2 separate regions of the Homo sapiens genome follow, and region 2 is linked to region 1. The links come from fine-mapping of genetic effects on gene expression. A gene starts in region 1. The other region holds a variant in brackets. All regions are shown on one strand. Distances are between the middles of the regions.

Region 1 (5,371 bases):
CGACTTGGCCTACGGCAGTCCTAATTCTTTCCAGAACTCATCCCCGGAATTGCCCTTTTAAACAACCAGTCATTAACCCAACTCCGGGTCTTTTATAGCTGCGAAAACCGATCGAGCACATCATTTATTCATTACGCTTATTACTATTGTTATTGCAGAAAAGCAGTGAATTCCCGGGACGGGGTTCAAAGGGTTTTTCGGAGGAGGAGGGGAAGAGGGAGAGAACACGCGGGCGGGCAGGGACCGCTGGGAGGCTGAGCTGGGCTGTGGGGCAGAGGTGCCCGGAAATCCCCAGGGAAGGATGCCTCCAAAGCGCCTCCGCCCCGCGCGCTCCTAGGCCACTGCGCACCGGCGCAGCTGCGGCAGCAACCTAGGAAGCTTCTTACGTAAGTCAGAGCCGCTGACATCACCTTCGCCGCGAGCGTCGCAGCCTGACTAGGCGCCAAAGGACCGTCGCGCCAACCCAGCGCCCCTGTCTACCTCCTGGGTCGTTCCTAAATGATTCTGCCGTCGCCAGATTTGGACGATCCGGAGCCAAGGGGACCGCCCTTGGAAGGGAGATGACATAGAATGACTATTTATTGGGAGCCCTTGGGTGTCGTAAAAGCGAAGTCAACGGACAGCAAAGACGCCCAGGGGTCTCCCAGACTTCCTTCCTCGTCGTTTCCCTGCAGCCCGCCTAGCAGACTAGTTCATACCTAAGTCCACGTGCCAGTAAATTTGGGCGACAGTGCACCGGGGAGGAGGAAGATAGTCTGTGGGATCCTCTGCGGGCAGATGGCACAGAGCCATTTAGTAGGAACCCTGGGCTGTTCAGAGCAGAAAAGATGCCCAGGGGTCTCCTCCATCTCCCCGGGGCCCCTGACACTCCCACCCTCATCTCTCCCTGACCCTCCCCGCGGCCCCTCCGGGCCACAAGGGTTTTCGGCAGAAGCACTACGAAGTTCAGTCTAGGAGGCGAGCAGCGCCACGCTACGTCGCACACGAGGGCAAGGCACAAGTTCGGAGCTCGGGGCAGCACCTGAGGTCACAGCGAGTGACGAAACAGCCGCGGTGCTGCAGCAGTCTCAAAAGAACACTCACTACTCCTGGAACCCCCAACCCTGAACATGCATGGTGTGGGCTACAGGGCTCAGGGCTGGGCTTCTGGAAACCACAGGAGTTGCAACCCTCCTCCCTACGCCCCGTGAAGGACGTGAAAGGCGAGCCCCGGTGGTGAAGGACAGACCCTCTCTGCCTCCTGTGCTCCCCATAAACGCTCCCTTTCTGCTCCTTCTCAGCCCACGCTGCCTGCGACTTCAGAGGTCGCCCTTTTAACTTTCCACCGTCCACGTCTGCATCACTGAATCGGGGTCCAGCCCAGCCACTCAGCCCCAGGAGGATTGGGGTGGGTCCCAGGGGATGGGAAGGGTGGGAAGGCGAGAGTAGTAAGGTGCAAGCTGCAACCGGAGCGGCGCCGCGGGGCTGGGATTGCCGCTGCTGGGGAGGGCGCGAGGGTGCGGCGCAGAAACCCATAGCCTGGCGGGCGGACGGCGCGGGTACTCACGCACTGCCTCCTGCTTAGGGTCAAGCGTGCTGAGGACGCGCTGCACGCCGCCGAGCTTGCCCTGCAGCGCCCAGACGCGGCGGTGGGTGAGCTGGATGTCGCTCTCGAGCTCCTGGAAGAGGCTGCAAGCGTGCCGGGCCACGTCCGAGAGCTGCCGGAGGACACGGGCCAGAGCGGCGTTGCTGACCGCGCATAGGTCCAGCATGAGCAGCACGGCCGCCGCCGCCGCCGCCGAGGACGCCTCGCCGGCTGCGGGCGCCGCCTCCGGGATCCCCGCCGTGCTCTCCTCGCCAGCCACGGACGCCTCTCCGTGCGGCGGCTGAGTCTGGTCGGCCGGCGCGGGCAGTGGCGGCGGCGGCGGTGGCAGCCCTGAAGGTGCAGGGACGGCGCGGGCTGGCTCCTCTGGCCCTGGCGCCTCGACCTCGTCCAGGTCCCTCCGGCCCGGCGGCTGCAAGGGCGGCGGCGGCTCAGCGCTGCCTCCGCTCGCGTCCACTGCTGGGCCGGGCGCAGGGCGCCGCTGCCTGCACAGCCATTGCGGCTCCACGATCCGCTTGGCGAAAGGCATCCCGCGCAGCCAGGCGGCGACTTTCTGGTCTCCTCCAAGCGCCCCTGTGAGCTGGAGACCGGGCGCGCCCACCTGAGCAGGGAGGGGGCAGGAGTCCGGCAAAAGCGCGATCTGGCAGTCCGGATACGCAGGGGGCTTCTCTGCTCACCTTGCCTCCTCTTCCCCGCCCTCTCCCTAGCAAATCAGTCCAGCCAGTCCTCCTTTGGGTGCACCGTTCCCTGGGGAGGATGACAAGCGCTCCGCACAGAAATTTAGGGGTGCGCCTGGTCTCTTCTCACTTGCTTCCAACCAGGGTCGACTGGCTCAACTCCATCGTTTCTGTGCTCGCCGTCGCCACCCCGGCCACTGCCGTCGCCGCCGCCTATATAAATGGGCGTGCGTGTGTCTGTGTGTGTGTGGGTGAGTGGGTGGGTGGGTGTGAGTGTGTGCGCGCGCCTCAGTTTGAAAGTACCCCGGCGCAGGCCTCTCCCCGCGCGCCCCTCGGCCGCTCCGGGGAGCGATTGCGCCCGGGATCTCTCTCCCTGGCTGGGCGGGGAGGAGGTTTCGGAAAGGCGCTCTGAAAACCCGGAGAGAGGAATCTGCCTCCAGCCCGGGCGCAGGAGGCCGCGCGGGGGTGACGGGGCGGACGCAGGGCGGGGGAGGCCGGGGCGAGGGGGGCGCAGCGCCCTGTGCGGCCGCTGGGAGTCACTGGTGGCCTCGCCGTGCTGGGCGCGTTCAGGCGCAAAGACACTTCCTCACATCCAAGGGGTTGGAATTGAGACTGTCAGCGTGGTGGGGGCGGGGAGTCCTCAAGTTGGGAGTAGGGGTGTGGGCAGTAAGCGCAGAGGGAAGAGGGTGGGGTATTGAGGATGCGGCAGATTTGGCGTGTTGGAGCAAGTTTTTCGCCGAATTCCAGCTCTGTACAAGACCTTTGGGTTCTTACAGGGAAAACTGGGCTGCTCCTTGGAGATCCCCGGGCTCTATGAACGCAAGGAGACAACTGGGGAGGGCAAAGGGCGTAGGCGCATCTCCATGTGGCCAGAGCAGCCAGAGTGCTGTTTATACCCCTTCCCAGGCATCACGTGGCCCCCTGTTTTGGGCACGGGCTCTATAGAATATCGTGAATGAGACCCAAACCACCAATGAGCAAAATCCCCAGAAAACTGCTTACGAAACTCATTGCACGTTGGGTGAGATAAACGGCATTACCTCCTCGTCACCCTACTGTGCTGATCATACACAGGATTTTTAAAGTTCTCCATCAGAGAGATGATGATTTACAGAAGAAGGGAAAGTTTTCCCCTTCAGTTAACTGAAAGGTATAATTTCTAAAAAGGCATGCATTTTCGATTGCAGCAGGCTGCAGGCTGTATGCCGTCAGTAAAAAGAGTTTGGGAAATGTTAATAAAACACGTGCTTTCATGCCTCCAAAAAGTATACTGTAAAAATATTTTTTATTTTAAAGCCACAAGCCAGATCTTGGGAATGCAGCCTCTTTTCGTGTTTCTAAAGAGAACATGGAAAAAATATGTTTTATGGCAACAATAAAGTCCTCCAGACCTGCGGTGGTGTCTCCTCTCCTCCCTCTAAAGGCGGGAGAGGGAGGAGGCTCCAACAGTCAGCACTTTGGACTGGCCCACGCTTTGGTTTTAAAGGCTTCAACAGACCCTTGTCTTATTCTACAAAACAAAAAAAAAAAAACAAAAAAAAACCAAAATTTTCGGCAAGGACATATCCTTGTTCATAAAAGATCCAGGCTGAGGCTTTGGGGGTAAAGGGCCATGATGTCTGCAAAGTACACATAAATGTTTCAGTAACAACAAGAAGAAGAATGATGATAATAAAGATGTGTATGTATGAAGGGAGAAAAAAACAAAATATGGCAAAATGTTCAAAATAGTCTAGGTTAAGGGCATATCAGGGTTCATTGTACATTTCTTGCAACTTTAAATTTGGTTTTGTTTCCAAATAAAAAATGAAAGAAAAGAATATTTTGGAACAAGGTCTTTTAAGGTTTGTTTTTTATCTCACAAATCTGAAAAGCGTTGAGCTAGCTGTTTTTAAATTGAGCTTGACTTTTTAATACGTTCAAAATTCTGAACATGAGTTCTGCTGGGTAGGCAAGCCAGACACTTCTCCCTAAACACATGGAAGCATGGAGAACAATGAGGGATATTAAAGGCATCTGGTTAGCAAGCCTTGTGGCAACAGGCTGCCCTGCCTCTCACTCTCCCTTACCTAGCACTGTCCTATTAATAGCAAGGGTGCCAGTGGAGCGGGCCCATCTGAGCATTGACAGGGGCAATGAATAAGTGGTGTGGGACTCTCACTCCTAAAGGGAGTTTCAGATTATTGGCAAGTTCCTTCCAGGGCTCCCAAAATAAGTGATCAGAAAGGAAGGGCAAAGGCCCAGGAGAGAAAGGGTTCAAGGGGGTAATTAAGCTAAAAAACAGGCCAGCTACCTTAGTGTCTGCCCCCAAGTGATCAGCTCAGATTCAAGCCGAGATTTCAAAATGATTCAAAGCACAGTTCAAGGATGCAAAAAGGAGTGCCCTCTTTGTAATCTCCTTGACTCTGACTTGTGTGCTAATAAAGCCCTTTGGTTAAAATTTTAAAAACCTTTAATTTTGGCTTTTGATCTCCTTCATTCTCGCTGTCCCCTCCCCTTCCTTTGGTGGTGGTCCCCAGTGACCTTTCCAAGAGCACATTACGTTTTTGTTTTTGTTTTTGTTTTTGTTTTTGTTTTTGTTTTATTTGGGGAGAAAGACACCCTCCTTCAAAGTCACCAAAACCAAACCTAATACAAATGATCATATTCATTGATATGGTTGGTTGATGTTTTCCCAGTCCTCTGTAAGATATGAATAAAGGTATCTTTAGAAAATGTAACGATTGTTTTACATTAGTGACACCATCTAAATAAAAAACTGCTAGCTTTGGGAAGGCAGCTTCAAGACAGCCTGCTGGCCCCATCCTACCCTTTTCCCAACTCAAGTCCCTCCCATGTGAATTACCCCCACACACACACCCCTACACACATTTTTGGGTTTTATTCCTGCTTTCTAGAACTAAAATACTGAAATTTTAAAAAGGGTAGCAACACATGTAATCCTGACAGGACATGTGAATAGTCTTAAGCTGATGAGTTTTCAGCATACGTGGGAGCTGTGTCTTTCTTGTTTAAATCCTGAATTGTGACATTTTACTCCAAATTTTCCCACAAAAAGTTCTGATGAAGTCAAGGTTGCTTTCTAAAGCCAGGTTGTTACACCTGATTGTTA
Region 2 (5,371 bases), 150 kb before region 1:
CCCAGTATAACATATACTCACAGGGGTTGTCTTGCAGTGTGGGTGTCTTAATTTATTTTTCCTTCTTTTTTAAAGCCAGCAGCCATATCCTGAAGCCACACAGCGTGTTTGAAGAAGGGGTGAGTTAGCCAGCACTCCCAGAGAGATTTGGTTCCTCAGAAAAAGAGTCAAAGATGAGCAGCCATGAAGTTCCTCCATTGGTAAACCCAGCACAGCTGCCACCCAGAGCAAACCAGAATCAGGAGTTCTGTGATTATTTCTTAATGCTGACATGCACGACCCAGTTATTCACATGTAACTCAAGGATTCCAGAGTCAGTAGCATCCTTAAGGAAAAATTTTCTCCTTCTGTGAGTTTAGTTATTTAAGGGCAGGGGTGATGTAACCAATACTAGACACAAGAACAGTCCTCTTGAGGAAGAAGAGAGAGAGGGAGGAGCCATATCAGAAGCAGGAGCACCCTACCAGAAAGCAACCTGCTAGATCAGGGGCTCCTTGTGGTGGCACTGGTGACATTTGAGGCTGGATCATTCTCTGCTGTGGGGGCTGCACTGTGCATTGTAGGAGGTTTAGCAGCATCCTTCACTTCTCCTCACCAGATGCCCCTTTTCTCCAGTTGTGGCAACCAAAAATGTCTCCAGACATTGCCACATGTCCCCTGGGGGTGAGGGAAGAATCACCCTCCCCCACTGCCCTAGACAAAAGCCACAGAAAACAAGAGGAAGCGGTAGAAAAAGTCACCAGACACCAATTAATTTGGGGGTGGGGTTGGGAGCAGAAAGGGAAGAAAAGAATGTGGAGACATAAAGGAACATCTCACAGGTTTCAGCCAGGAAGATCAAACTCAACTTGCAGATAAGACAGTGGGTATAGTCGTGCAACCCACAGACTCGGCGTGATTATGGGTCCCTTTGAAGGGAGCAGCGCTTTTACAGGCAGGCCAAGGGGGCAGTGAAGCCTATTTAAAAAGGGAGCGGCTTGTAGTTTACCAGATATCTTATCAAACTTACTTTAAGAATTCAACGCAGGAAAAAAAATGCCACCCCTGAATGCTCCTTTCCTTAAACTTGGATACTAACAAAACTTCCTGTCAACACGTAGGAGCCTGAAGTGATTAAAGCAAAAGGGAGCACTCCCTCTATTGTGTCTGCTTCTAATCCTCAGAGAATTTTTCTTTTAGACACACATACAAACAACTTGGGATTTGTTGATGCTAACTGCAGAGGGGTTTACGCAAGGAGGGGCGGGGGCTGCTCAGACCACAAAATGAAAGGGGAAATAGAAGCAAAGAGAGAGAGGGCCTGAGAAAGTTTCCTTCCCCAGCTTCCAGTCAAGAGGGCTGGCACAGTGCTCAAGGGCATTTGGCGTCAGTCACTGGACTGCTCCCTGAAATGCCCTGAAGGGGCAGAGCCAGGGAAGCTGGCAGGGCCCTCTCTGCCTTTTTCACTTGGGAGCCCAAGTCAGCCAAAGAAAAGCTATGTGCCACCTTTATCATGCAACAAAAGCCACTGCAGAGCCCTCCAAGGCTCCAATGCACTTAATAAAGGCTAACTAAATAAACAAAGAACAAGTCCTGAGAACATAAAACTCTTCACACCTGGGTACCCTCTTTATTACAGACTCCAGTTTAGCAAGAACCCGGCAAGCTCTGACCTTACCTTGGAAACAAGCCCAACAGGGTGAACTGGTCACAGAAGGCAAAACTGGACACATCTTCCCACCTTCAACCCCCAGAGGAAAATGTCTGTTCTGTGCTCCAGACTATTTTTGCTGGGGGTATTTTATTTAAATTCCTTCACTTGATTATATGTTTTGCACAAGTATCTGAAGTTTTGTTCATTTTGTTGTCAAATGAATCTTCCTGCTTCACTTCTAAGTGAGGTTGAGGACCTCAAGTGACATATGCATTCATGATAATAATAACAGCAACATTTATAGAGCTCTTACTACATGCGAGTTCAAAGCACTTGAAATAGATTAGCTCATTAAATCTCAACTGAAGTCTTATTTTTACTTTCTGCAATTATAAATGATCTGTATCTCTTTTCCTCCTCCCCTACAAATTCTCCCAAACCCAGAAATGCGCATAGAAATAATAGCCAGTCACGTATTAGTTGATCTCTCTGCTAGATTGTCAAAATGGCTGCAATCATTCCCCTTTCGGTATCTCCCCATCCATTTGCAATGAGACCTTGTAAGCCCTCCCATCGAGAGGTGGAGTCTATTTCTCAAACCCTTGAATCTGGGTTTGGTTCTGTGACTTGCTTTGGCCAATGCAATTCAGAAGTGGCACTGTCTGAGTTCCAAGCCTGGATCTCGAAAGGCCTTGCGCACTTCTGCTCGCATGCTCAGAATTCCGTGATCACCATATGAACAAGCCCAGGCTGGCCTGCTAGACGATAAGAGGACACTGCCAGGGGGAACATCCCAGATGAGGCCAATCTAGATCAGCTAGGCCTCAGCTGACCT[A/G]TCACTGATTGTGGACACATGCGCTAGCCCAGCTACAACCACCTGGCCTGGCCTAGCCCAGACTGGAACAACCACTGAGCTCAACCACAGACTAAGATATATGTTTGTTGTTCAGCGCCACTAAATTTTGGGGTAGTTTGTTTTCTAGCAAAGGTGTAACATTCAAAGCATTAACTATACTCTTTTAACCTTGTGATTCTCCAATATGGAGTTACAATATGCAATGTTTTTGAAACTTCTTTGACCATGAACTTAACTCTCCCTTTTCTCTCTTCTGTGTGTATACACACATGCACATTCCAAGGAACACACACACTAGGGAAAGGCTGCTCTAGATCACTCATCACAGGAGTAACTAGCATTGGTTCATCTGTAAGTTTTATGAAAAACAGCTGCTTTTCCTTCATGTCCGCTTATAGCTTTTGGTGCTGTTCTGAAAACATTAACCTTAATGGCAACTGTAACAACCAGTGTTATAACAACATATAAGAGCTGAGAAACCTCCCAAACATCCCCCATTAGTCCTTTGTTCTTACTATGGGCTATAAAGAGCTATTTAAAAAGACAAAAATCAAAACCAAGAACTTAATATTCTAGGCCCACTAAAACAATAATCAGAGGTTTCTCCCATAAAAACCCCTTCCACTGTAGTAAAAAAAAAAAAAAAAAAAAAGAAAAGAAAGAAAAAAGAAAACAAAAACAAAACAGTAAATTGCTGCAAAAAATAGACAAAAATGAACTGGCTAGAAACTGATTAAGGATTCGTTTTGAACCAAAATCAATAAAGAAAAAAACAAAATTCCAAGCAATGCCATTCACTGCTTTAACATTCCAAAAAGAACTCCCACACAAGTATTTTGAAACATTCCTGGAAATTCATGTTTTACTTAATTCATCTGCTTCCAATAGCTGGTTTTCCTTTTTAGTCCAACCATCCTTCTCAGAATTCAAACAATCTCTCTAATTTCATCCCTTTCTCTGGAGCAGGGTTCAGATGGTGAGAAGATATTATTATTGCTATCATCATGATCAGGTTTCTGTTGATCAACACTGTGTAAAAGAACCAGGTGCAATTTTCCAGCAGATGCCACAAAAATAAATGATAACATATGCAACCAACATCCTACCATTTTTTTGTAAAGTATTTAAAAACTTATTTGAAAGTTATCTAGTAAAAAATAAGTATTTCCAAAATGAGTTACTACATGTGTCAAAACATACACCCAACAGAACAGGACTGCTTCAAAAGAGCTGTCAGTCAGAGTCCAAGGAGGAAATCAAGGCCCTTCCTCCCTGTGAGCTCAGCTACTAAGATCGGCAGGCTTAGTATGCCTTCCCACCCAATCAAAGACTATTTTGGACTAACAAATATAGAAGGGATGATGGATGAAACCATTAGAGTAAATCATTATCCAGGCAAGAATCCTCAATGAATGCTAAAGCTAGGTGGAGAGAGTTTGATGAGGAATGGGATATTTACATAATGTCAAAATATCTTCCAACAAATTATATTTGTTCATTACAAAAGGAAAAAGAACAGCTACACAGACACCAGCTTAACTAATCAAATGTGACCTCACCAACAAGGGCCAAATGGACATCTGTGCCTCCTGATATGGTCCCCAGAGAACAAATCACTTACATGCCTATATAGCATTCCAACTGAAAAATGCCTAAATCCAAATGTAAATGTGAAGAAACATCAGAGAAACCAAAATTAAGGAACATTCTATAAAACAACTGGCTGGTATTCTTCAAAAATGTCAAGGCCACTGAAGACAAAGGAAGAGTTATGAACTGTTCTTGATTAACGGGGACAAAAGAGACAGGACAACTAAATGCAATGTGGGATCCAGGACTAGATTGTGAACCTTAAGAAAATTGTGATAAAGGGCATTATTGGGACACAGGTTACATAAAAGTATGAAATAAATATTATATTTTCTAAATTTGATAGCTGTACATATACAAGAGAATATTCTCATTCTTGGGAAATGCAAGGGGTAAAGGGAGTTTGATGACAGCTGCCTACTCCTAAATGGTTCAGCAAAAAAATTCACATATATATGAACATGAATTAGTGTGGGGGAGAGAAGGGATAAATGCAACAAAATATGAACAATTAGTGAATCTAGATAAAGGTATACAAGAGTTATTTACACTATTCTTGCACCTGTCCTGTAAGTTTTAATTATTTCAAAATAAAAAGTGAAACAAGCAAACATCACCAAATGCGGAGCTTGCTATGGGTGGATAAGGGTAAGGGCAAGACAAAATTGTACCCCCGAGTAGTCAATATGCAGCAGAGAGCCAGCTCTCTTCCCAGCTGCCCTTCATAGCACTGTCCAGAGTATTCCCCAGAATGGACCCCCTCTTAGCTTCTTTTGAGATGAAGCTTTTGTGACCACAGGCCCCTGGCACTCCAGGATGCTGCAGGCCTTGAAAGAAAACCAAAACCACTTCGGGCCATGGTTCAACTCTTTATGAACATTTTCTTCCTGCAGGTTTTCCACTGTGGTGGTTGGAGGTCTTATTTCTTTTGCCGGCACTGTTGGGAGAGAAAGACAAGACTGGGCTTTTATTGAGGTGTGAGGGACCTGGGAAGCCAAGAAACACAAGCAGGGACTCACAGGTTCCAAGATGAGCTTTTGGGGTATTTACTGGATGCCGCCCTATCTGTTTTCCCTCTTCTGTGTAGAGATCCATTGAGGTCAGCTCATCTGGGGAGACTGCCCCCACTACTGGCTCTGCCTCTGGACTGTCAGGAGCCTTGGGATGAGTCTCATGGCGGCTCTATGCCTCGGTTTCCTCATCTGCTCTGCTCAGTAGAGATAAGCAATCCTGCTGTGTCAGCCCTGCCATTTTTGGCAGCAGCAGAGATCAAGGCCTGGGGGGTGGGCCCT

What was found. PIP is the estimated chance that this variant, and not a neighbour inherited with it, causes the effect. A credible set is the group of variants that fine-mapping cannot tell apart.
Region 2: its variant is the best candidate, but not a certain one, in a credible set for the expression of NHS in whole blood (TOPMed, PIP 0.55).

Annotation. Positions count from the first base shown.
Region 1 is chrX:17,372,498-17,377,868 of GRCh38, reverse strand. It overlaps NHS (NHS actin remodeling regulator), which reads right to left and starts at 2,669. Exons shown (of 9, transcript NM_001291867.2): 1 at 1,547-2,669. The coding sequence starts at 2,111.
Region 2 is chrX:17,523,409-17,528,779 of GRCh38, reverse strand. All of the region lies in intron 1 of NHS (NHS actin remodeling regulator), which reads right to left. LOC101928389 (a long non-coding RNA gene) reads right to left here and starts at 345. Exons shown (of 2, transcript NR_135631.1): 1 at 22-345. The variant A/G (reference allele first, on the strand shown) is at 2,469.